Linked DNA regions of Homo sapiens: region 1 is linked to region 2. The links come from fine-mapping of genetic effects on gene expression. A gene starts in region 2. The other region holds a variant in brackets. All regions are shown on one strand. Distances are from middle to middle. Region 1 overlaps C12orf75 (chromosome 12 open reading frame 75). Region 2 holds the start of CASC18 (cancer susceptibility 18).

Evidence for each region. PIP is the estimated chance that this variant, and not a neighbour inherited with it, causes the effect.
Region 1: its variant is fine-mapped to the expression of CASC18 in tibial artery (GTEx, PIP 0.92).

What each region holds. Positions count from the first base shown.
Region 1 is chr12:105,331,004-105,333,503 of GRCh38, reverse strand. All of the region lies in intron 1 of C12orf75 (chromosome 12 open reading frame 75), which reads right to left. Among named protein-coding and RNA genes, the nearest start is that of C12orf75, 1.6 kb to the right of the region's middle. RefSeq lists an enhancer at 1,188-1,731 and a silencer at 2,388-2,487. The variant A/G (reference allele first, on the strand shown) is at 991.
Region 2 is chr12:105,702,535-105,705,561 of GRCh38, reverse strand. CASC18 (cancer susceptibility 18) reads right to left here and starts at 1,359. Exons shown (of 5, transcript NR_110109.1): 1 at 1,306-1,359. It overlaps LOC105369959 (a long non-coding RNA gene), which reads left to right. Exons shown (of 3, transcript XR_945309.3): 3 at 1-446.

The DNA.
Region 1 (2,500 bases), 370 kb after region 2:
GAATTCTATGACTCCTGGGACATATTGGAAGTAGTGCACTGTAAGTAACTAGAAGAGAAAGACAATATCTCTTTAACGCGTTTCGTATTGCTCGGGTTCAGTCCTCCTAGTGTGCAGCTTGGTCAACAGTGCAATTGACGCTGATGCCCAAGCTCACAGCTGAGATTTTCAGTACCTTTGCATTGTGGTTTATTTTTCTTTACATCTCTCATCCTGATGTATTTCCTCTCTGAACCTAAATTCCTAACACCAACTGACAGAACATTTCAAAATAACAATGACCAAATCCCAAAGTCAGCCAGGTGGACTCACAGGCAGGCAAATGTTTGGGAATGGCTTCTCCAAGACAAGGGCATATCCATCAAAGAGGTGATGCAATAACTCCCTGCTCATCATGTTGTCTCCTGCATGTTTTGAATCTGCACTCAATATCCTTCTCTCCTCTGAACAAAAAGTAATTTTTGGCAAACAGCAAGCTGGAGGAGAGAATAGCATGCTCTCACATGCACTGTCCACAAACAAAAGTGAGGCTGCTCCTCAAACTACTCTTTCGGTAGCTTTTTTTTTTTTTTTCAATATGACTTCCCTTTAGGTGATAAGAGAGATGCTCCTAGGGAAAAAGTCAATCAAATATTCATAAAGATAATCATATTTCCCCAAGAAATCATATTTTCCCCCCAAATTTGATTTTTACATTAACATTTTAGAGCTAGCTCATCATACCTTACCATCTTTCTATTTTCTTTTCTTTTCTTTTTTTTTTTTTTTAGATGGAGCGGAGTTCCACTCTTGTTGCCCAGGTTGGAGTGCAATGGTGCGATCTCAGCTCACTGCAACCTCCGCCTCCCAGGTTCAAGCAATTCTCGTGCCTCAGCCTCCCAAATAGCTGGGATTACAAGCAGGCGCCACCACGCCCAGCTAATTTTGTATTTTTAGTAGAGACTGGGTTTCACCATGTTGGTTACACTGGTCTCGAGTTCCTGAGCTCAG[A/G]TGATCCACCCACCCCAGCCTCCCAAAGTGCTGGGATTACACAGGCATGAGTCACTGCGCCTGGTCCATCATTCTGATTTTCATTTGGCAATGGTACCCCCTCCCCATCCCTAAAACTGACAAGCAGTTCATTAATAAATCAAAATGTACATGCATGAAACTAGCCTCATTTTAAGGGAAATCTGCTACAAATCCTTCCTACAATTTTTTTTAATGTGGATAACTTTTCTTCACCTTTTTTAAGTAGGCTACACATGCAGTGGATTGCATACGGCCACAGTACCTAGTAGACTGAGACACAATTTGAGTGCGGGGTGTGGCCCTGACATTGTTTCATACAAGCAGAGCTTTCTGGCCACAGGCAGGTTTGAAGCCCGTCTGCCCTCATTAGCATAAGGTGCTACACTAACCTTCCCCACTGTTAAATGAATCTAAAAAGTTCGCTCTCCTGTGGCTCTCTGCATTGTCACCAGGACAGGATTTAATTCAAGACTCAAATTGAGTCTTAAACTCCATTTTTTACCGGCGTCTGGGTTAAGGGATGTGACAGGCCCAAGGTTACAAAGTCATTGCCAGGGCCTCCACAGCCGCCTAGGAAATACCGCAGCCTCTGACTGCTGTTTGCATTTGCTGGTTAGGCTAGGATGTGGCATCTGGTTGACTTCAATTGGAGGAGATAGGAGCTCTTTATCCAAAAGGACACTGAAATAGGTCAGCAGTTATTACTCAAAACAGATCCAGGGTACCTTAAATCCCGAGACATAGGCAGGGTGAAATAGAAGGGTGAGTTTTGGCAAAAGTCACTTGACACAAAGCCTGGCTGGCCCGGGGAAGCTAGAAGACCTTGCCTGCCAATCAACATGAAGTGGTATAAAAAGAAGTTTCTATTTGTGTGTGTGTGTGTGTGTGTGTGTGTGTGTGTTTAATGAAAAGTATCTTAACAGACTGTTAATAATAAAGCTCTGTCTCACATATGTAAAACATCCTTACTGCTGCAGCTTCTCAGAGAAATCCTAAGAGCAGCCCAGCCGGTCTTCGGCATCAAGGCAGACACAGATGCGTTTTTGCAGCTCTGCTTCTAGTTCTCCCCAACCCCACTCCCACCCTTCCCCGCTTCCTGCCCCACCACCACTGCCCGAAAAGTCCTGTCTTGCTCTGCTGCACTTTTCCAGGTGCAGCGCCTTGGTTCCGAGGAGATGGGGGAGAGGCCTGGAGGAGCAAGTGTGGGAGGTGGGGGAGCGGCCGGGGACCACGTCCGGGAATCCTCTCCCCCAGGAGAGCCCTGAGACCCGCCAGCTGCAGGTGAGCCCCGGCGGCTGCAGGGGAGCCCGCGACAGTCCTCCCCGCGCTCCCTCGGCAGAGACGCCCCGCAGGCTCGACTGCTCCAGGCGCAACCGCCCCCGCGCGGGGGACTTGCCACGCTTTCGGTCTTTCCAGAAACGGGCGGTCTGCTCCTGTCCCGAAAATGGGGACGGGGAGAGGGGGCTGCGCGCCCCCCACCCAAGATCCC
Region 2 (3,027 bases):
TGTGGACCAAGGTGACACTTAGGAATCCCAAGAAGCTCCAGCCATAAAGGGAGTCGGTATCCTTCCTCCAATTGTAAACCCCAGCACTCCCACTGAACACACTGGCCATGCCAAAAGTTCACACATCGGCCACGCAAAGAGCTCAAAGAGATCCATTCAGTACCTGGGAAGGCACGATCACTACGGGGAGAATCAGAAACCACGCGATCGCCAGGTGGCCTTCAAAGAAGCCTCCTCCCAGAAGGTCCAGAATCCCATCCAGAGACATTTCTGTCACTCTTCTCAAGCCACCTCATCATCTCTCTCTGCAGTTGAACTGCTGATGTTTCTGAGATTGTGGGTTTGTTCAAAATGAAGCTTGGCAGAATCATAATTTATAGGCTAATATTTTGTAAGTAGAGACAATTCATGACTTAGAATCTTATGAATAAATTGCTCCTGTTTTATTGCTCTGTGTGTGTGTGTGTGTGGGTGTGGGTGTGGGTGTGGGTGTGTGTGCATATAACTTTTCTTTTTCCACGTTTACCTCTTGAGTGGGCCCATTAAACTGAGAAGTACTGCGTGAGGTCTTGAGATAGCACAAGCCTTCGCCACCCCTGTAAAGGTGTGACGTGTGTCTAGGCAAAACCCTGGCAGGTCTCCAGGCGGTCCTTCTGAGTTAGGGCTCTGAACACTCTCTCTTAAAGCCCTGAGCTATGAACACAGCTTTGAACGGGACAGAGAAAGACCAAGTCAGAGGGGGAGCAGCTGTGTCTTTCTCCTCTCTGCTTCATTATAGACAAAATTGACCTCTGGGCCAAGTCTCATTAACTAATTGAAGAGTTCATAGTCACACAGTGTTTCTCAAAACGAGATTCAGAGAACACGAGCATCAGAAACACCTGAAGTGTTTGTTGGAATTGCAGCTACCTGGGCCCCATTTGGTGCCTGTTGAATCAGAATCTGTGGTATAAGAACCTAAGATCTGCATTTCCAATACACTTATAAGTTGAGTGTCAAGCACAGTAAAGTTTGGGCAGCCCGTCCCTTAATCTTTTCACATCCCGTCAGATTACAGATTTATATTTTAACAAAAGCCTTTATTTCCATAAGCCAACAGGGGAACTTCAGATACTGCTGTGGGGCAGCAGGGGAGATGTTGTTAAGCAAAGGGAGAAGGGCTTCCAGCGCCTCTTGATTTTTTCTGCAGAGGTAGCTGCACATGCAGCTGGTCAGAGTTTACCTTCTATGTCCTACCCCTGTGAATGCACCCCAGAGCTGGAGCACGCATTGAGGTCAGGGGGGCGCCTACCTGGAAGGACCTACCTGGAAACTGGATATCCAGTGAGGAGAGGAGAAGGGGCTGTCAGAAAATCAGCTCACCTCTAGACGGCGGCAACTCAGATAAGAGGAGCTTGTACTTCCGGTCTCTCCTCCCTCATCCCTTTCTGGTTGGGAAATTTTGTTCAAGCTACCGCTGTATGCTTCTGTTTTCTCTGAAGAAAATGGAGACTAATATTTATGCCTGCCTCAATAAATACATTTTTATTATAATTAATTTTGAAAGGTCCTGAGATTGGTAGGAAGATCACGTCCTCAGAGGCAGGTGTTGTGAACAGTGGATATGAAGTTGCATGGAAAATCTTCCACATGCTCAGTCCATCCCCAAGGGAAAAGGAATGTCTGGTGGGAAGTGAAGAGCTCTGAGCCCCTGCCTTCTCTGCTGCAGCACCCACCATCTTCCTCTTCTATTCCAGCCATGCGAGGCTTTTTTCTATTCCTTGAACCCAACAAACATTGCTCGTCTTCAGCCAGGATTGGGAAGCACTGCTCAATCCACTGCTGTATATAAATCTAGCTCACGGGTTGGGACTTTTCAGGCAGGGAAAGGCTCATTAGGAAACTGAGGCTGATTTTGGATGTTTCCAGGTCAGGAAGGTTGTATGTGTAGGTTTTCTTCTGCATTGGGCACAGAACATTGGATGGTCATTCTCATTCCCATCTTTGGCAAGGGCTGGGATGAAGTATGTGCTGGTGGTTCCTGAGCTGCCTAGCAGAGACGTGGGCTTGGGGAGGAGGACATTTTCTTTCCAGCAGGTGCTCGAGAGGACTCAAAGAGGTGATGAATGGAGCAAACAGAGCCTGGACTCCATCCAGGTAGACAGGGCTTATACCCAAATCTGTCACTTACTAGTTGTATGATCTTGGTTAAGCCTTAGTTTCCTCCTCTATAAAATGACTCTAAATAGTAACACCTACCTCAGAGTTGTTATGAAGATTAACAGACATAAGGTGTGTAAACCAATTACACTGTGTCTAGTACACATGACTGCCCTGTTCATACTAACTATGGTGATTTGATGTTTGGGAGCCACGCTTTTTAGTCTTTAAGGTCTGTGTAATCTCGCTGTCTTGTTTTATTTTATATTTCCCCATTTATTCTCTATTCTCGCTCCTGTTTCCTCCCATTTCCCTCTCCTGTCTTCCTTCCTGGGATTTCTTATATGTCCTTAGATTATCTCCAAAAAACACAGAACTTGGTTTTGTGTGTATATTAAAGTTTAATATCCTTAAGTAGTAACGTGCTATAAATCGTTTACCACCTTTTGCACTCAACACTAAGATTTTTAGAGGTATCCATATTATGGTTTGCCAGTGGTTCTCAACTTCACTATGAAACAGAATCACTTGGGAGCTTTTGAAAAATTTCAATACCTGGACCTCCATTCCAGTTATTCTGATTTAATTTGTCTAGGGTGCGGGCCAAGCCTCAGGTCATTCTAAAGTGCAGCCAGGATTGAGAAGCACTGCTCAATCCACTGCTGTATATAAATCTAGCTCACAGGTTGGGACTTCTCAGGCAGGGAAAAGCCCGGGGTTCACCTTTTTCTGCCTCACCAAGTCTCTGCAGTAAAATCAGGTGATGACGACCCTAAGGACAGCGTTAAAAGGAAAAAGAAGAGAGGAGAAGGCAACTTGCAGCCTAAGGCATATGTAAGAAAGAGCAGAAATCAGAACTCCTACTCTGCCCTATTTGTCAGAGTCATG